Homo sapiens: one gene and its partners. The protein of the gene in region 5 purifies or fractionates together with the protein of the main gene of each other region. This does not show direct contact. Each region holds a gene or a part of one and is shown on either strand. Other genes may lie near its edges.

Region 1 (3,500 bases), on a different chromosome or scaffold from region 5:
GATACAAAGGATTACAGTTAAAAAAAAAGTAGATGACTTATATGTAAATCTTTGTAATGGTGTAGCATTTTGTGACACAACTACCCCTTAAGAAAAACTGCAAAGTCATGCATAAGTATAGTCCCCGAGTTTTGGGGGAACTAAAGAGGAACTAAAGCAAATGGAGAAACTGAAGGTAATCAAAATAATTACCTTCAGGTAGGTTATCATTTCAGCAACTGGGATTATTTTATATACAATAACTGGGCAGCTTAAGAAAGGGGAAAAAAAAGATGGAGGTCAAGCAGGCTTCCCACTAAACCATGCTGCTTCTTGAAAAACAAAACAACAAACAATAAAAACATAATGCAACTTCCCGGTGAGAAACAGGTTCCTTATTGCTATTTTGGCAGGTTGCTCTCTCACTGTCTTATCATTTATTTCACCATCTGTAGTATTTCTTGCAAAAGTAAAGCCCTCATTTTCTGTTAGGGAGGTATGTGTTTACCAAGCTGTACCTAAAATCATTTATGAAAATGCAGCCATTCATCAGGAGACAAAAGCCAGGACAGAGAGCAGTCCCGTGTCTTCTACTCAGCTGGTGTCCTGAGCTCCATTCAGGTCTCAGACTATCCACATAATGGCCTTAGGCATGGCTTAGGAGTCCAGTTTCCCTGTCTACAAACTAGAACAGGAGGCACGGATTGCTCTTTACAGCATGTGGACAAGCTTGCAGTATACAATGCTCCTTCTTTCACATCATTCTATGAGAAGAATTCTACCAGGAACAAGTCAGGGTCCAAGAAGAAAAGAACTACCTCCTTCCCAAGCTACCCATACTCTTACCTTGCAAGAAACAGGATGCTTTCCTAGGGCTTTGCTAAAGTCTACCAAAGATTCAAATGTCTTCTGGCTGGTCATTGGTGTTTTAATGACCTGGAAATGCAAAGCAGAGAATTATGACCAGAGTGTCAGCAAGCAACTTCGGTAGAATGGTTCAAGGAATGATTGATCAAAAGGCTCCATATAGGCAACAAAAATAGTTTGAGTTTCAGCATAGAAGTAGGAATCTCAAGCCAGAAACAATGTATTTCCCAAAATGACTATTTTAAAACAGAGGCCAAATGTGGTGGCTCATGCCTGTAATCCCAGCACTTTGGGAGGCTGAAGCGGGCAGATCATGAAGTCAAGAGATCGAGACCATCCTGGCTAACATGGTGAAACCCTATCTCTACTAAAAATACAAAAATTAGTTGGGCATGGTGGCATGTGCCTGTAGTCCCAGCTACTTGGGAGGCCCAGGCAGAAGAATTGCTTGAACCTGGGAGGTGGAGGTTGCAGTGAGCCGAGATCATGCCACTGCACTCCAGCCTGGGTGACAGAGCAAGACACCGTCTCAAAAAAAAAAAAAAAAAGACAACAGTGTACTGTAGAATGTACAAAATCACGGCTTAAAATACAAGTGTATGTGTGTACGTGTGTGTATAGGACAGTTTTACAGGCTTTGTTGTTGAGACAAGCCTGGGTTCAGTTGCACCACTTACTGGCTGTGTGACCCTGAGTATGTTTCTTGAAACTGAAATGACACTGAAATCACTCTGTTCACCTCAGGAAGTTGAGGTGAGAATGAAATTACATTGGGAGTAAAGCACAAAGCCTAAGCACAAATGCTCAATAAATGCTGACTTCCATTATTTAATTATTAGAAGTCTGGAAGTATATGATGGTTGCCCTTAAAGTCTTCTACGTGGGACCTGATCTTCTATTATAGAGGAGGAGGAGCCCCAGGAAAGTGAGTAATTTGCCCAAGTGACAGTTCTCCTGGATTCCTGAGTATTTCTCCCATGACTCCACCCTCTGCCACACAGATGCTCTAGAGGCCAGCGGCCCCTTGGCTTCAGAACAGACTCATCCTTCTGGGGAAGGCTTTCATTTACAGCAAGCGGGGCCTGCCACCTGCTCCAGCAGCCCTCCTGACCTCTGTGAGGTACAGGCAAGGGCACAAGGGCTGCCCTACTGGCATCTGTAGGGGATGGCACCAAGCACGATGCCCGGCACAGTCAGCCCTCAGTAAGCAGTTAGAGAACTCATGTGTAATGGTAAATGGAAAGAACCAGATGAAGTATATATATATATATTTTTAAACAGGAGAGATGCGTGTTTATTCACTCATTCATTCAACTATACACACACACACACACACACACATACACACACACATACACACACACACACACACACATATATATATGTAAAATGTAAAGGCCAGTAAAGAACTTCAATCGGAGTCAAAGGGTTTACTTTAGACCCTTCATGGGATCTTAGGCAACTGCCTCACCTCTCTTCTCTGGAATGGGGATCATGGGCATGTCTTCCCTGTGCAAGAGGGCCGTCTGACTCGGTGAACTAATGAGCTAGTGTCTGTGCAGGGATGAAAGGTGCTATATAAACAAAGAAGAGTTCTCACTCCTGTTTTCGTGTGATCACAGCCTGGGCCATGGTGTCATGTCGTGACATCAAGAGAAGTGAATGGATGGAAACAGGAAAAGACACAGTGAAGATGGAGAAGAGGAGCAGGACGAGAAAGACCAGAAGCCACCCTGCGGGTACCACAAATCAAACAGAATCCCAGAGCTGTTTGAAAGGAGGTCTAAAAAGTCTCCATCAAAACCACAGACTGAGCTGGGGGACAAACACTGCTGACTATGGAGTTTTCAAATTAAGTTTTTGGTTTAAGGGAGTTAATAATAGTGAAGGTTTGTTTCTTTTTAAACAGGAGAGATGGATGTTTATTCACTCATTCATTCATTCAACGAACAGTAATTTGTACAGATACGCTGCTCCTAGTTCCAACAGAGTCTGAAAAAAAATACATATATATATACATTTAAATGAGCCCAGTCCTAAGTAAAGGAGCCACTTAGCTTATTATACAAGTTATTTTGGTGTACACCACCAGCAACACAAGGAAGAGCTAAAGTTAAACAATAAAAACTGAATAGAGAAGAACACTTTTACAAAATACTTTCTAAAAAATAGTAGCATTTGCTAAACATCAGCTGTTAACAACCAACACACTACATTTCCAAAGACAAAAGCATACATTACCAGATAAATGCAGTTGAAAACATTATTAAAGTAAATCTACAGAATGTGCCTATCTCCAAAACACTTATATATACAATATAATAACTAAAGAAATCAACTAGTCCCTAAGTACTGAAATGTTGGAAATGCATGCCACTTCTTTGCTCTTAATCTGCATGAGATAAGAGCTGTTAAATGCTGTTTCTTCTGTTCCCCAAATCCCTCCCCTTCATTCTTCAATTTCTTCAAAAAATCAGCCTTAGGGGATAGGAGAAAATAGGAGGAAGCTGAGAAGCAATGTTAGTAAGACAGAAAAAGTCCCATTGCAAGATGGTCAAAGTTGTCACTTGAGAGAAAATGCTAAAAAAAATGGTCATTATTATGACTTATTAAAAATGCTTATGCTGAGTAGTGGTGAGGGAATGAGGAGGATA
Region 2 (3,500 bases), on a different chromosome or scaffold from region 5:
AGAATGGGGAAAAAAGCCAACAAAGATTCAACCTAATAAGGAAAGACATCTTGGAATCCAGAGGGATTACTTGGGTGAAGGAGAATTAGAGTCCAGAGTCAGGTACAAATGCAAAGAAAACAGAAATCTTAGGATTACAGAAAAGAAGATGACTCAACAAAAATTGGACTACTAAGTCCTGTATATCTATATTTATATCTATATATGTCTATCCATCTATCTATCTAAGCTGTTTATATATATGCACACACACAAAGGAACTTTTAGTAATGCTGATAATTTGTTCATTTAATACAAATATGTTCATGAATTATACATTTTAATAGTATTACAGCCTGAATAGGCAAACATGAACAAAACAATTGCATCTGTTCTTCAGGCACTCACTTTCAATTAAAGACGCATATAAGATGAAAGAAAAGGGACAGAAACTGATATTCCATGCAAATGGTAACCAAAACAAAGCAGGGGTTGCTAAATTTATATCAGACAAATTAGATTTTAAGTCAAAAACTATCTCTTGAGACAAAAAAAAAAAAGATCATTACATAGTAAAGGAGTCAATTCACCAGGAAGATATGACAATTAGTATGACTCTATCAGAGCACCTAAATTATAAAGCAAATATTGACAGATCTGAAGTAGGAAATTGACAGCCATAAAATAATTTATGGGACTTTAATATCCCACTTACAATAATGAATAGACTATCTAGACAGAAAATCAATAAAGAAACCTCTGACTTAAACAACACTGTAGACCAGTGGACCTGACAGACATATACAGAACTTTGCACCCAACAGCAGAAGAATTCACATTCTTCTCAAGTGCCCATGGGATGCACTCTGAGATAAATCATCTTAGGTCACAAAACAAGTCTTAACAACTTTAAGAAGATTGAAATTATTCCAAGTGTCTTTTCCAACCTCCATGGAATAGAAATAGAAATCAATAACAGCAGGAAAACAGGAAAAATTATAAATATGTGGAAACTAAACGATATAGTTTGAATAAACCTCCAGGCCAAATCTCATGTCAATTGTAACCCTCCATGCTGAAATTGAAGCCTGGTCAGAGATGTTTGGGTCATGGGGACTGATCCCTCATGGCTTGGTGCTGTCCTTGTGATAGTGAGTTCTTGCAAAATGTGGTTGTTTTAAGTGTGTAGCACCTGCTCCTCCTTGCTCCTATATTTGCCGTTTGAAGTACCTGATCCCATTTCACCTTGCACCATGAGTAAAAGCTCCCTGATATATGCTCAGAAGCCAAGCAGATGTCAGCACCATGCTTGTATAGTCTGCAGAACCACGAGCCAATTAAACCTCTTTTCTTTATAAATTACCCAGTCTCAGGTATGTCTTTATAGCAATGAAAGAATGGACTAATACACTGAACAACACACTCTTGAGCAATTATTGGGTCAAATAGGAAATCAAAGGGAATTTTAAGAGCTATTTTGAGACAAAAAAAAAATGGCATAACAAAACTTATGGGATGCAGCAAAAGCATTGCTAGGAGAGAAGTTTATAGCAATAAATGCTTATGCTATGAAAGAAGAAAGACTTCAAATAAACAACCTAGCTTTACCCTTTCAGAAAGTGGCAAAAGAAAAACACTTTAAGCCTAAGCCTAAAATTAGCAGAACGAGGGAAATAATTAAGATTATAATAGAAATACATTAAATAGAGTTGAAAAAGACAATGAGAAAAATCAATAAAATTAAGATTTTGCGTATAGAAAAGATAAAATCAATAAACCATTAGCTAGACTAAGCAAAAAAGAAAAGGCTCAAATAAATAAAATCAGAAATAAAAGAGAAGAAATTACAATGGGTACCTCAGAAATTAAAGAAGACATGAGACTACTATGAACAATTATATGCCAACAAATTTGATAACCTAGAAAAATAGATAAATTCCTAGAAACATACAATCTATGAAACTTGAATCAAAAAGAAATTCGAAGTCCAAACAGACAAGTAACAAATAAGGAAATTGAATCAGTAGTCAAAACCTTCCAACAAAGAAATGTCCAAGACCATATGGCTTCATGGGTAAATTATACCAGACATTTAAAGAAGAATTAATACTCGTCCTTCTCAAATTATTCTGACAAATAGAAGAAGAAGCACTTTAAAACTCATTTTATGAGGCTAGTGTTATCCTGATACCAAAGCCAGACGAAGGAAAGCAAACCGCAGGCCAATACTCCTGATGAACATGATACAAAAGTCCTCAATAAAATGCTAGTTACCCAAATTCAGCAGCATATTAAAATGATGATACACCATGATTAAGTGGGATTTGTCCCTGGAATGCAAATATCTTTCAACACATGCAAATCAATGCAATAGAACACATTAATAGGTTGAAAGAAAAAAAGCCACAAGATCATTTCAGTAGACACAGAAAAAGCATTTGACAGTGCTATCCACATAGACAAATGAGGTTGCATCAAACTAAAATGCTTCTGCACAGCCAAGTAGATAATCATCAGAGTGAAAAGGAACTTTAATAATGGGACAAAATATTTATAAACCATATATGTATATACATATATATATGAGTTAATATCCAAAATTTATAAGGAGTGCATGTAAGTTAATAGCCAAAAATCTCACATAATCTGATTTTAAAATGGGCACATGACCCCTGTACTCTGTTGGTGGGAATGTAAGTTGGCACAGCTGTTATGGAAAGCAGTACAGAAATTCCTCAATAAATTAAAAATATAATTACCTTATGATTTAGCAGTTTTGCTGCTGGATATATATCCAAAGGAAACCATTATTACATAGAGAGATCTGCACTCCCATGTTCACTGCAGCATTATTCATATTAATCAAGCTGTGGAAATAACCTAAATGTGCATTGACAGATGTATTAGTCCGTTTTCATACTGCTTGGAAGAAATATCGGAGACTGGGTAATTTATAAAGAAAAAGAGGTTTAATGGACTCACAATTCTGCATGGCTAGGGAGGCCTCACAATCATGGCAGTAGGCAAAGGAGGAGCAAAGGCACATCTTACATGATGGCAGGCAAGAGAGCATGTGTAGGGGAACCACCCTTTATAAAACCATCAGATTTCATGAGACTTATTCAATATCATAAGAACAGCATGGGAAAAACTTGCCCCTGTGTTTCAATTACCTCCCACCAGGTTCCTTCCATGATACCTGAGGATTAAGGGAGCTACAATTCAAGATGAGATTTAGGTGGGGGCACAGCCAAACCATATCAACAGATAAATGAATTTGAAAAGTATGATATATATATATATATATATATATATATATGTACATATAATATATATAATTACATGTATGATATACTATTGAATATTATTCAGCCTTAAAAAAAAGAAAATCTGGACATTTGCAACAACATGGATGAACATGGAGGAATTTATGTTATTTGAAACAATCCAAACATAGAAAGACAGATATTGCATTATCTCACTTATATATGGAATCTAAATAGTCAAGCTTATAGTAGTGA
Region 3 (3,500 bases), on a different chromosome or scaffold from region 5:
CAGGTGTATCACCTGAGGTCAGGAGTTCGAGACCAGCCTGGCCAACATGGTGAAACCCTGTTTCCACGAAAAATACAATAAACTAGCTGGGCATGGTGGTACGTGCCTGTAATCCCAGCTACTTGGGAGGCTGAGACACGAGAATCGCTTGAACCTGGGAGGCAGAGGTTGTAGTGAGCCGAGATTGCGCCACTGCACTCCAGCCTGGGTGACAGAGTGAGACTCCATCTCAAAAATAAATATATAAAATAAAATTGAGATATAGTTCAGAAAGCCCACCAAGATCTGAATTATTTAAACCTGTGTCCAAATTGTTTTTGTTCTCATTATCTTGCAATTGTTTTTCTTTGCATACAGGCTCGTGAGCCCTTGGTTGTGTTTCTCCCTTTTTTCTCTCACTGTTTTTTTTCTTTTCCTTTTTGAGACGGGTCTCACCCTGTTGCCCAGGCTGGCATGCAGTGACACAGTCATAGCTCACTGCAGCCTCAGCCTCAACCTTCCAGGCTCAAGCGATCCTCCGACCTCAGCCTCCAAAGTAGCTGGGACTACTGCTGTGCGACACCATGCCTGGCTAATTTTTGAATTTTTATTTTTAGAGATGGGGTCTCCCTATTTTGGCCAGTCTGGTCTCAAACTCCTGGGCTCAAGAGATCCTCCAGCCTCGGCCTCCCAAAGTGCTGAGATTACAGGTGTGAGCCACTGTGCCTGGCCTCAGGATGAGTGCTTTCTTAGATTTAGATTTCTTCAAGGGCAGATTTAGATTTCTTCAAGTTCTGAGTAGCTTTGAACACGATGCTACAGGGTTTAGTGTTTAACAGAGATTTGCTGGGTTTAGTGTTTAACAGATATTTATTACAAGGGGAAAGTAAATTCATGGTGACAGGTTACTGTTTCTAATTGGTGCATTGACGAATAAAGTGTAGAATTGAGAGATTTACCTCGGTCATCTCTTCAGCGATCCATCTAGAAGCCTAAAGTTTAAAATTGTGTGCAGCAGGGCAGTGAGGCCCCTTAGCTTTGGACATTTGTTAGAATTCTCTCTCTTTATTCTGCTGATGAATGAATGCTCTAAATTGGGTTTTGAAGTTGTTAAACAGAAATGTGAAAATCAGAATTTATATTTTGTTATACTTGCCATTTGAGTAATTTTTCATTTTAAAACAAAATTGCTTAACTTTTGGTTAAGCTAATAAGTTTTTTTCCCAAAAATCTTACTTTGACATGGTTTTAGTTTGTGCCACGACTAATTCCTATAGAGGATTGAGTGAATACTAAACATAAGCAGTCATTCCTTGTTGTCAAGATGGTTCTAGAAATAAGGAAGCCACAGCTTCATCAAAGGATTCCTGTAAATATGGTTTTTGGAGGTACATAGTCCACATTATAGCTCTTAGTAGATATGTAGTCTATTTGGGGGTAGATAATTGTGATCAGAGTGCAGAGGGTAGGTGCTAGAACTCCTTCACAGTTAAGCGGCACTTAACACAGTTAAGTTTTAAGAAAAAACACACAAGATCTGTGACTACGGTTATTTAGTGAGCTGTAGCTTTAGGGCCAGACAAAATATGATGAGTGTTTCTGTTTGGCTCTTCCCAAAGGCCCAGAGGATGAAAAGATTTTAAGGCTAACTTGAAATATGGTTGTTATTATCCCCAAGGTGCCCAGACAGCAGCGTTTCATTGCTCTTCCCAGGTATGTGTAGGACGGTATCAGAAATGACCATGTCATCCTTCATTTGCAGATGAGGAACTCTGCCCAGGGAGGCTGTGATATAGCCCTTGCCAAAGGCTGTTTGTAAGGCCTTGAAGGCCCTGACTCAGTTTATGAAACTTACATGACTCCTTCCAATGAATTTGCTTACAAAGAATTTTTTTTCTTTTCAGTGAACATTTAGGTTAGAAATAGGGCCCCTTGAGCTCTTTTTATCAACACGTACTCACAGAACATGGTCTAGGGGCTTTAATTTAGGGCAGGTGCATTATATGACACCATCTTTGTTTCTTCAGTGACTCAGAATCTGTGAAATTATTTGAACAGCTGCTTTTGTGTAAGCTTGCTAACATGCAGGGTGACTGTCTCAATCTGTGCCCGTCAGTGTTCATTCTTCTGTACTCGTTATTTTCAAATCCTGTTGAGTGCCCACTTTTTCTTTTAGTTTTGTTAACTTTTTACGTACTTTGCCTTTCGTTGTTTGGGACTCTGTAGAGTGAATATAGGAGGATTTCTTCCACAGATCTGCTCCTGTCGTGCCACTTGCATAAACCTCATTGTGGTGACTTGGCTGTTTTCTGTTATGGCCTCAGTTGATGTTGCAGTGAGTGCTACACCATGATGGTGAGGTCCGTTTGCACCCCAGCTGGTGAGCACAGGATCCTCTTTGCCAAACTGCAGAAAGAATTCCCTTGTCTCGCTGCCTCCGCTTCTCCCCACTGCGTGTCTATAGTACTGTGCCTCGAACCTTCTCTGCCCACTTGTGTTGTCCTTACAGCTGATCCTATTTTCCTTGACTCCTCCCATGTGACTTACTACATTGCTGGGGGGAATGAATGTGTGAATACAGTACCTAGCATGTGGCAAACGCTGTCTAAGTAAGGGTGTGATGGTGTTTATTATTCCTACTGAGTGCTTAAGCATGGGAAGTCAGGTATCACATTTTCGTGTTTTGTTTTTTTTTTTCTTTTGGGGAAAAAGAACTTGTTTGGTGTTGAGAGCTGTCAATAAAGCAAGGCCTGTGATTGGCAAAATTGGTTATGGGTGTAGCTATAGGAGATGTATGTACTATACAGCTGTTTACTTATCCCTGAATTTCCACAATGCAAACAATGTTTGGGAGGCTGACCAATGGGTTATATAGGAATCTCAATTTTCAAATGTGAATTGGTAGTTATAATTTTGAATTTCTGTATTTTCCATTAATGTTCACTTAATTTTCATTCAGTTAGACCTATGGTAGTGTTATGTCCATTAAGATACAAGCAATTAATGAGTATTTTTCTTGATTATTTTTACAATATTAGGGACAAGTCTATATTTTCATAAACTGTTTTCAGTTGTCTCTGCTCTTTCTTCTTTAAGCAATACAGATTTACACAACTTTTTTCTCTTTCAGCTTTAACAATCTGCTTTGTATGTGACATGTAAGGATTTGGTTTTCTGTAAATACATACTTTCACACACATACCTTATATGGTGTGACTAGTAATGTAACTAATTTTTAATATTATTTACCTCTAAAAAAGTGTTCAGATATTCAAATAAATGAAAGTCGTTTTCTATAAAGTTAATGAACATATTCTAACAAAGTTCCTATGCAAGCATTTTGAGAACTGTTTTTTTTTTGTTTTTTTTTGAGACAGAGTCTTGCTCTGTCACCCAGGCTGGAGTACAGTGGTGCAATCTTGGCTCACTGCAACCTCCGCCTCCCGGGTTCAAGTGATTCTCCTGTCTCAGCCTCCCGAGTAGCTGGGATTACAGGTGTGCACCACCATGCCTGGCTGATT
Region 4 (3,500 bases), on a different chromosome or scaffold from region 5:
CTTTCCGTTGATTTCCCTTCTTTATGTACTCTCAGGAGTTACTGTTTTTTAATTACTCCTTTCTTAACCTCGAGTTCTAGAATAAGATTGATTGTCCTATTGGCTTAAGTTGATGGGCGTTTGATGTTTTGTCAGACTTCTAAGGTACAATAGTATGCCGCTTGGTAGTAGTCAAATGCCAAGTTCCTATGCTTAGTTCAGATAATCGAGAGTCACTGTTTTTTGTTTAGAAGAAAATTTTTTTTTTTTTTTTTTTTGAGACAGGATCTCGCTCTGTCGCCCAGGCCTTGGTCTCCCAAAGTGCTGGGATTACAGGTGTGAGCCATCATGCCGGCCTAGAAGAAATTCTTTTTTTTTTTTTTTTTTTTTTTTGAGACGGAGTCTTACTCTATCGCCCAGGCCGGAGTGCAGTGGCATGATCTCGGCTCACTGCATGATCTCGGCTCACTGCAACAGCTGCCTCCTGGATTCAAATTATTCTCATGCCTCAGCTTCCCGAGTAGCTGGGATTACAGGCGCCCGCCACCACGCCTGGCTAATTTTTGTATTTTTAGTAGAGATGGGGTTTCACCATGTTGTCCAGACTGGTCTCGAACTCCTGACCTCAAGTTATCCCCCTGCCTCAGCCTCCCAAAGTGCTGAGCCACCACACCCGGCCAGAAATTTTTTTTTTTTTTTGAGACGGAGTCTCACTCTGTTGCCCAGGCTGGAGTGAAGTGGCGAGATCTCGGCTCACTGCAACCTCCACCTCCTGGGTTCAAGCGATTCATTTTTAGTCGAGACAGGGTTTCACCCTGTTGGCTAGGCTGGTCTTGAACTCCTGACCTCAAGTGATCCACACGCCTCAGCCTCCCAGAGTGTTGATATTACAGGCGTAAGCCACAGCGCCTGGCCTAGAAATTCTTAAGTAAATGGAAAATATATTTATATTGTTCAATTAAACTATATTATGCACTCTGTGTGTGACATTTAAAAAATCAATTACAAAGCTTATGTAATTTTTGATCTTCTGATATAAGTATTGTTTAATCTGTTTATTTGCTTTATTTTTCTGTCTCATAAATGGAATCTTTAAATCTAAATGTAGTGCTATCATGGTATTTTACTGACTTTAGTATTGAGGTGATTACTGACGTTCTTTAAGATAATGCTGGGGAAAAGCAAAGAAGTACCAGTTGGATGTGAAGGAACTTTATTTTTAAAAATGGTCTTTTAGGGGCCATTCTAAGAATAAGAACAGTACTGAAAAAAATACACTTTAGAGTTCAGTCACCTAAGGTTGTGAAGGGGAACATGAAGAAGATTGTGCAGTATGAGAACTTTTAGCAGAAAGCAGAAATATCAGAAATCTATGCCTTAGCATCCTAGAAGCTCAAAGTTGGAGAATAGTTTAGAGGTTTTACATCCAATGCTTGATCTAATGCTTTAATTTCTTTAAACTTACGAATGACTGCGTCTGTTGACAGTACTCACTGTATTCTTATTAAGTGACCTATTGCATGTCTGATCACCCAAAAATTCTCTCATTTTGCTTAAGGATCAATAAAAAATTCTTGACCTTTGCTTGTACGCTTGATCCTTTGGGAGTGACTATGTTAGTTTTCCATTAAGACAACTTTCAAAATATAGAAGGATAATTCTCATGTCCTCTTTTATATTTTTCCAGTCTAAATATGCCTAGTTTCTGCAACTCTTTCTCAAGGAGTGGCTTCAGACTTTCTTGTCCTGGTCACTTTCTTCTTGAGTTCTAGTTTATGTAAATTCCCTCAAAGTGTGACACTCAGAATAATACATCATATTTACTGGTCTTGTAGAGTAGTCTGGGTATTTTTAGTTTAAGTGTTTTTTTGTTAACTGAGAAACCAGTTCCTTTGCACAAATAAACGTTGCGTTAGATATTTTTCTAAAACACTTCAGTATATTCAGAATTCACTCCAACCTGCTTACACTGTGACCCAAAGAATTTCATATCTGTGCCTCTCTTCTTTCCCCGTCTGACTCTAGTAGTCCATCTCTCTTGCCATTATTCCTTACTTAAGAGGCATAAGCATATGTATGTGCTTATATGAACACTCGTGTATATACATATCATATATAAGTAGATATCCTGAGAGATAATTTGAATTAAGAAGAATTAGGATAGTAGCTTGAGTGTGAAAGGGGATTTAAGAATATAGTAGGTGTGAGTTGGAGTGATAGAATAAGATCCATGGAAGAAGTTATGAATTTGGAGGACGAGAAAATGCTCACTGTAGCAAATAAATGAGGCCAACAGTTAGCAGAGTAACCATAGTTGTTGATGGATTTGATAGTATATTAAGTATGATTAAGTATAACTGCTAATGCTTTTTAAATTTTATTTTGATAGGAATCATATGAAGATGGCCCTTGTACTATAACTTCAAATAAGAATTCTGATAATAACTTGCTTTCATTGGATGGATTAGATAACGAAGTCAAAGGTCTTGATATATTTTCTCTAAGTTTCTCTTTTGATTGAAAATATGCACTGTTGTCAGATCATGCTAACCTTTATAGATAAAAGATGGGGGAAATTTTTCATAATACAGAAAGATATTGGGCAGGTTAGTTTTTCTTCTGAAGATTTTACTGAGCTACTTGAGTTTGTTTTTGACACTTAAAAATTTGTTTTATATGAGTAGTGTATAGATTTCTTTTAAAATATTTTGTAGAAAGCAAGGGAAGATGTGATGCACAGCATTAATTATTTAAAAATTTACATGATTTTGAGAGCTTTATTTCTGACTTTATGATTTTTGTAATGATAACAAATTTTTTTTGTTATATTTTTTCTTACGGCTTAGTTGTACTATTTAAAAGTCATTCTTTATATTATTTAAAATAAAGTATTTTTCTCCATTTCCTGGTTTATACCGATTTTCAAATTACTAATACAGGTACCAAAACAAATATTAACTCAAGCTCATTAATTTTGGGGCTGGGGGATGTTACTGCTGTTTTATCTTAGACATTTACCTATACTGAAAGATAAAGGATTTTAACATTCTGCTTTTTTTTTTTCTTTAGCAGTATGGTAGTATTAGCACTGTTTTCTGTTGCATTCTGAGAGTAAAAGAAATAATCTCTTTTTCAGTAGATGGCTTACCAAATAACTTTAGAGCTCACCCACTTCAGTTGGAGCAATCCAGTGACCCTTCTAACAGTATTGATGGCCCAGATCATCTAAGATCTGCTTCATCGTTACATGAAACAAAGAAAGGAAATACTGGAATAATTCATGGTGCATGTTTAACACTTACTGATCATGATAGAATTCGACAGTTTATACAAGAGTTCACATTTCGGGGCCTTTTGCCACATATAGAGAAAACAATTAGGCAATTAAACGATCAGGTAAGGTTTGATTTTTTGGATTAGTATTTTAAAAATTTAAGTAAATAGTAAATTTAAGAATTATTAAACGTATTTGAAGTTTTGTTTTATTTTCGTTTTAAGATAGGCCAATATTAAGACTTCCC
Region 5 (3,500 bases):
GAAACCCCATCTCTACTAAAACTACAAAAAATTAGCCAGGTGTTGCAGCAGGTGCCTGTAGTCCCAGCTACTCTGGAGGCCAAGGGAGGAGACTTGCTTGAACCTAAGAGGCGGAGGTTGCAGTAAGCTGAGATATTGCACCATTGCACTCCAGCCTGGGCAACAAGAATGAAACTCCATCTCTAAATAAATAAATAAATAGTGTAAATAAATACTGTATAAAATGCAAAGCACTCAGAATAGCCAAAACAATTTTGAAGTCAGAAAATAGCACTTACATGCTCTGATTTTAACATTACCTATAAAGCTGTTGTAAACAAGACAATGTGGTTTTGGCATAAGGACAGAGAAAGAGAACAGAGTTCAGAAATAGACCCAGACTTATGCTTGTTTTCAACAAAGGCATCAATGGAATGAAATGGAGAAATTAAAGTCTTTTCAACAAATGGTGCTGGAATAACAGATTACTCACATGGGAAAGATGAACCTAGATCCCTACCTCACACCCTATATAAAAGCTAATTTGAGATAAATCGTGGATTTAAAAATAAAAGCAAAAAATGTAAAGCTTCTAGAAGTATATATAAGAGAATAGCTTTTACAGGGTGCAGTGGCAGGTGCCTATAGTCCCAGCTACTAGGGAGGCTGTGGTGGGAGGATCACTTGAGGCCAGCAGTTTGAGGTTGTATAGTATACTATGGTTGATTTTGCCTGTTAGTAGCTGCTGCACTCCAGCCTGGTCAACATAGTGAGACATCATCCAACAAAAAAAAAAAAAAAGAAAGAAAAACAGCTTGATAAGTAAAGACAAGACATAGAAAGCAAAGCAATAACTTTTTTGTGTGTGTGTGTGGAGACGGGTCTCACTCTGGCACCCAGATTGGAGTGCAGTGGCTCAATCTTGGCTCACTGCAACCCCCACCTCAGCCTCCTGAGTAGCTGGGACCACAGGTACTCACCACCATGCCTGGCTAATTTTTTGTATTTTTTGTAGAAATGGGGTTTCACCATGTTGCCCAGGCTGGCCTCAAACTCCTGAGCTCAAGGGATCCTCCCACCTCAGCCTCCCAAAGTGCTGGGATTACAGGTGTGACCCACCAAACCTGGCCAATTCTCACATTTGTAGAAGAGAGTTACAAATACGGAAAGGGAGAAGAATGTAGCTTGTGGTGTTAGGTTGCATTTTGGAGAACTCAAAATGCAGTATGAACTCAAGGTGTTACCATGAGTGTGTGTGTATATGTAAAATTATAAATAATACATATGGAAGTTTCTACTGAACAGACCTAGAAACAATGACAAACCAGTAACAACAAGCAGTCCTGACACCCAGATCTTCTAAATACATTTATCCACTAAAAGGAACTAAGGTTGTTTGGAGAAATGGCCCTTTCCAAGGCTAGGGAAAAAATGCTAAAAAATTAAGGACATGCTCAGGGACATGTTGAAAGCACACAGGAGGCAGCCTACGGGGCTTCCACTTTCCTGTAGTGGAATTTTGAACAATTTGAGCATCAGAGTCAGTAATGATAGTAATGGGTTGTAACTGCCCAAATTTTGAACAATTTCAGCGTGCAAATAAGTTATGATAGTAATGGGTTGTAACTGCCTAAATTTTGAACAATTTCAGCGTGCAAATAAGTAATGATAGTAATGGGTTATAACTGCCCAAGTATTGAAAAATTTCAGCATCAAAGTAAGTAATGAGAGTAATGAGTTATAACTTATTCAATAAAATGAAAATGTATGAGTCCATCCTGATATAAATAACTGAATAAATGGGAGAAAAGGAAAAGGTTTTCTTTGTGGTAAAATGCCAATTAATATCTTACCAATAGAAGGAATGTTGGAGTTAGAAAGTCATGAATGAATGCTAAAACTAGTGGGTGAAAATATGATGGGGAAGAAGATATTTGGATAATCCAAAAAGAACCTCTGATAAATTATTGATTACTTATAAATGAAAAAATGGTACCTTTAAAAGCTAGAAACCTGGTGAATACCAAACCATTTTAACCAAGTGATCAAAGATAACATCACCTGGGATAAACTGATTGTCATTTGTGTCCTAATAAGACTCACTGAGAAAAATCATACTATCATTCAGTGGTATACCTGCCTTTTGGCAGAATCTTAATCTAATTCTGAGGAAACATCAGACAAATCAAAATTGATGACCCTTAACAAAAGAACTCGCCCATGTTCTTCAAAAATATCAAGCTTAAGAAGCATAGTCTGAAGAACTGTTACAGACAAAAGCAAACTAGAGAGATTGATAGTTGTACAATGCATGCTTCTTTATTGGCTCAAATAAAGGAGCTAGAAGGACATTACTGAAATATAGGTGAAATTTGAATGTGGACCAAGGATTAGATAATAGTGTTTGATTCATGTTAAATTTCCTGATTTTTGTTTTGTTTTGTGAGACAGGGTCACCCAGGCTGGAGTGCAGAGGCACAATCATGGCTCACTGCAGCCTTGAACTCCTAGGCTCAAGTGATCCTTCTGCCTCAGCCTCCCAAGCAGCTAGGACTACTAGCTACATGGCACACACACCATGCCCGGCTAAATTTATTTTTAATGGAGACAGGGTCTCGCTGTGCCCAGGCTGGTCTCAAACTCCTGGGCTCAAGTGATCCTCCCACCTCGGCCTCCCAAAATGCTGGGATTACAGGTGTGAGCCGCCACACTTGGCCCAATTTCTTGAGTTTTATAACTGTGCTTATGTAAGAAAGTGGCCTTGTTTTGGGGAAGTATACACTGAAATTAAAATTTAAGAGTAAGAAGGCATTGTATCTCCAACTTTCTCTCAGATGGTTCAGAAAGAAAATATTAAAGCAAATGGAGGGAAAATATAAATGGTGACTCTGGGTGAAGGAAATTTCTGTAAGTTTACAATTATATAGAAAGGGAAGGAGAGAAGTATGACTCCTGAGAGTCACTGCAACATTTCCAAACCAACTGCCAGTGGCAGGCAGGGCCACCCCACACAGAGCATTGCACAGGCCACCATGAGCCTGCTAGCATATGTGGTCAGTCAGTGCTTGGTCAAATGTGGACGACTTGAGCTATCAAATGCCAGTTCATGAAAATGTTAGTTTTTTGCTGTTTTTCTCCTTTCCCAGCTGAAAATGTAGCCAAAAAATGGCAAGTGAGTAGAGAAGATCAGGACAAGGTTGCAGTTCTGTCCCAGAACAGGACAGAGAATGCACAGAAAGCTGGCCATTTTGACAAAGAGATTGTACCAGTTTTGGTGTCAACTAGAAAAGGTGAGTATATCATAGTGGTTTAAACATCAACCTATTTATAGGTAAGAGTAACATCTAAAAGAGTAATACATAGGAATCTTTAGAAATTATATCTTAGTTATGTTTTTCAGGTTGCAAATATATGTCCTGGATACATGAATGTGGGGAGGGGGTATGCTGGGTTTACAGGACACGGTAACATGGGACCTATGTCAGCACTCAAGCACTCTTGGTTCCAGAGCGTCCATGACC
Region 6 (3,500 bases), on a different chromosome or scaffold from region 5:
GTCCCATGTACTCAGAGGCTAAGGTGGTAGGATTGTTTGAGCCCAGGAGGTCCAGGCTGCTTGAGCTGTGATCATGATACTACATTCCAGTCTAAGTGACAGAGTGAGACACTGTCTCAAAAAAAAAAAAAAAAAAAAACCAAAAAACTATGATGAGCACTGTTGTATGTAAATCTTTATGGACATCTTTTTTTCCTCCGAATTAATTCCTGATGAACATTTGAGTGAACATTTGAAGAAATTGATACCTATTCCACTTCAGGAGGTTTATACCAAAATACACTGGTATAACATTTTTCACTTGCCAGCAGTAGTTATTAATTTGGACTAGGGTATTTTCTGATTTGACAGGCAAAAAATAATACCACATTTTAATTTGCTTTCCTTTGCTACTGAATTTGAACATTTTCTCGTATGATTTTTAGCCATTTGTATTCTTCTTTTGTGAAATATCGGTTATGTTCTTTGCCTAGTTTTAAATTGGGATGATTTTCTTTTCTTATGAATTTGTAAGAGCTCCTAATACAGTAAGAATACTTTTCTATATGCTCTCATATGTTGCAGTTTTCTCAATTTTTAGTTTACATTTTCATTTTAATACCCTTTTTGACAGAAAAGTTCAATTTCAGGAGTCAGTTCTGTCAGTCTTTTCTTTTCTTTTTTCTTTTCTTCTCTTTTCTTTTCTCTTTTTTGAGACAAAGTCTCGCTCTTGTCGCCCAGGCTGGAGTGCAGTGGTGCGATCTTGGCTTACTGCAACCTCTGCCTTCTGGGTTCAAGCAATTCTCCTACCTCAGCCTCCCAAGTAGCTGGGATTACAGGCATCTGCCTCCATGCCTGGCTAATTTTTTTGTATTTTTAGTAGAGACGGGGGTTCACCATGTTGGCCAGGCTGGTCTCGAACTCCTGACCTCAGGCGATCTGCCCGCCTCGCCTCCCAAAGTGCTGGGATTACAGGTGTGAGCCACCGCAGGCAGCCTCTCCTTTTCTTTACATTTTTTTTTAATGCTAAAAAAGACCTTTTCTCACTACGATACTGTGATAAATGTTCTTCTGTGATCCCTTTCTAGTTCCCTTAATGTTTAATTTTTTAGACACTTAGCGTTTAATATAGTTGATATTTCTTTACTATATGAGGTAGAGATCAAACTTAATTTTCTTCCAGCTACTCAATGGAGTATTTCAATATCATATCCCCATTGATTTGGTATGATCCCTATATTATCTTCCTTAAGAAATTGTGTGTTAAAATCAGCTTCTGGCCTCTGTATTCTAGTCCACTGCTGTTTCCCTGTTCTTGTAGTAGAGCACACTGTTTTAATTACTTTTACTTTGTGTTCATTGTACTAACGTGTACTGAGGTGGGGATGTGGAACATTCAGTGATAAGTAAGATAGGACAGTTCAAGTCTGCATTTATAAATGTATATCAGTATTTAGTTGTGTAAGTTGTATAAGCTGGCTGATTTTTCTTTTAAATTTTTCTTTACTCATCTTTCCCAATTTTTTTTGCAATGAATTTTGAAATCATTCTGCCAAGTTCCAATATTCTGCTAAGGGTTTGTTTGCAATTTTATTATTATAATTATAATTTATTATTATATTAAAGATTTAAAATTGGTAGATGATTGGCTGATTTGTAGTATTTGAGCTTCATGTTTCAGGAATGTGGCATTTTTCTAAGCTTGTTTATTTTTTAATACCCCTCTGTACTTTTTTAAAAAGTTTTTTTTTGCATACAGACTACAACATTTTGTCCCTCGTTAAGAGCATGTGTCAGTGTGTTTGTCATGAGTTGTAATACCCAGTTCAACTCTATAGGTCTTGTAAATAGTAAGTCATGATGTTTCAGCATATGGTTGGTTGGCAGTCTTAAATTTCAATTTTATGAACTCATCTTTTCCTGAGTCACCTTAGTTTAATGGCAGATTGGAAGATGGGGAATCATGGCAGGTTAGTCAGATGCCATCTCAGGAGGCACTGCTCCCTGGAGTGTCTTTTACCCTTTGTGAAGTATCGCACAAGAAGGAATACTCAAGACTTGGTTCCTTTTAGTAGTAACGGCTCTAAGAATCCAGAGGAATAGATCTGAATATAAATGGCGAGTTTGGGAATGTACAAAACAAGAAACAAGAAGTAGGAAAAAGAAGAAACTAGTAGAAGATAGCAAAATGTTGTACGTTAAGGTAATAAGTAACTGTTCTGCCCCCAGACGAGAGGTGTTTTTACTCTTTTTATTTTTTTTATTAGGGAACAAGTATGGACTTACGTAGACACCTGATTGGGACCTTTATTTGGGACCCTAAGGGACAAGTTTTGCCCAATCTTTTATATAAATAAGTAGAAGTGAAATTATATATATGTATATACACACACATATATATGTATATATAGTATAGCATCCTTTCCATACCCATGCTACTCAAAGCGTGATCTGTAGATTGCTGCTGGTCTACACACTGCTGAGTCAGGAAAAAAAATTGAGAGTATCATTTAGAAACTTAATAGCAATTTGATATTGTCATGACCTTATATATCTTACAAAAGTACTGGTTTAGGATGCATTGGAAACTTTTAAAAAAGTTTTCTTCACAATCATGAAGATCATGGTGTTCCTCACTTAGAGTGAATACTTACATATTGATTTGTTTTATGCAGGGTGTGGCTGGGAATCCTATGGTGAAGTCTGTGCTTGATAAGACAAAACATTCAGTAGAAAGCATGATTACAACGCTGGACCCTGGCATGGCTCCCTATATCAGTATGTACATAAGTTAGACCGGTATCTGCCATTTTTTTTTTAAGGGTATGTCCACATCAGCCACTAATTGTAATTCTCTGTTCGTTTCCACTGATTGTGTAATCAGTGGAAATTCTTATTATATTCTTGCATTAATTTAATTGTCAGTCTTATTTTTTGGTGTTACTAATTCATCTTTTTTAAAAGTCATTAAATAAATTTTGAAAATCCCACAGAATGATCCTAGAAGGAGTAAAAACCATGAATTATTGGTATACTTGCTGATTTTAATTTTAAATATAGGTTAGCATTGCTTTATATGAATTTTACTTTATTCACTACTGACATTTGAAGTGATGTTTGTTTCATACTTTTTTTTTTTTTTACATTTCTCCTGTTATCTATTTTAATTAAATGTTTGTGTGTAATTGAGGGATAATATTTTTGGAGGAAGCAAATCTAGTTAATAATATCTAATGACTGGGTATATTGGGAAAGCTATTTTTAACCACCTCTGAACACTAATCATCCAGAATCATCCAGACAGTTGATAGATACTGTCTGCTATTTAATTTTTATGTACATATCCAATATGTGAAAAAATATCACAAGGCTTAGTGACCAATTATTAGTAATTCTGTAAAAGATAACTTTTAAGTCAAAATTGTGCAGCAGGTACCTGAACAGCGATTTCAGTGGCAATAAAAAGCCAATAGCTTTCACAAGTCTTGACTATGTTGGTAGTTTACTGTCTAGTAAATATC

Evidence for each region.
Region 1: the proteins of ACAT2 (region 5) and HADH fractionate together in Homo sapiens (co-fractionation; one large-scale study listed by BioGRID). This does not show direct contact.
Region 2: the proteins of ACAT2 (region 5) and FAM174A purify together in Homo sapiens (co-immunoprecipitation; one large-scale study listed by IntAct). This does not show direct contact.
Region 3: the proteins of ACAT2 (region 5) and TTC39C fractionate together in Homo sapiens (co-fractionation; one large-scale study listed by BioGRID). This does not show direct contact.
Region 4: the proteins of ACAT2 (region 5) and TRAPPC8 purify together in Homo sapiens (affinity purification with mass spectrometry, with the first as the bait; one large-scale study listed by BioGRID). This does not show direct contact.
Region 6: the proteins of ACAT2 (region 5) and PRRC1 fractionate together in Homo sapiens (co-fractionation; one large-scale study listed by BioGRID). This does not show direct contact.

Annotation. Positions count from the first base shown.
Region 1 is NC_000004.12:108,020,889-108,024,388, reverse strand, and holds part of HADH (hydroxyacyl-coenzyme A dehydrogenase, mitochondrial isoform 2 precursor), read right to left. Parts: intron 916-3,500; coding exon 826-915; intron 1-825. UniProt on the Homo sapiens protein: Mitochondrial fatty acid beta-oxidation enzyme that catalyzes the third step of the beta-oxidation cycle for medium and short-chain 3-hydroxy fatty acyl-CoAs (C4 to C10).
Region 2 is NC_000005.10:100,562,874-100,566,373, forward strand, and holds part of FAM174A (membrane protein FAM174A precursor), read left to right. Parts: intron 1-3,500.
Region 3 is NC_000018.10:24,084,254-24,087,753, forward strand, and holds part of TTC39C (tetratricopeptide repeat protein 39C), read left to right. Parts: intron 1-3,500.
Region 4 is NC_000018.10:31,908,629-31,912,128, reverse strand, and holds part of TRAPPC8 (trafficking protein particle complex subunit 8), read left to right. Parts: intron 1-2,368; coding exon 2,369-2,462; intron 2,463-2,484; exon of another isoform or gene 2,485-2,545; coding exon of another isoform or gene 2,546-2,585; intron 2,586-3,115; coding exon of another isoform or gene 3,116-3,118; coding exon 3,119-3,375; intron 3,376-3,500. UniProt on the Homo sapiens protein: Plays a role in endoplasmic reticulum to Golgi apparatus trafficking at a very early stage. Maintains together with TBC1D14 the cycling pool of ATG9 required for initiation of autophagy. Involved in collagen secretion.
Region 5 is NC_000006.12:159,772,045-159,775,544, forward strand, and holds part of ACAT2 (acetyl-CoA acetyltransferase, cytosolic), read left to right. Parts: intron 1-3,125; coding exon 3,126-3,269; intron 3,270-3,500. UniProt on the Homo sapiens protein: Involved in the biosynthetic pathway of cholesterol.
Region 6 is NC_000005.10:127,527,640-127,531,139, forward strand, and holds part of PRRC1 (protein PRRC1), read left to right. Parts: intron 1-2,654; coding exon 2,655-2,757; intron 2,758-3,500. UniProt on the Homo sapiens protein: May act as a regulator of the protein kinase A (PKA) activity during embryonic development.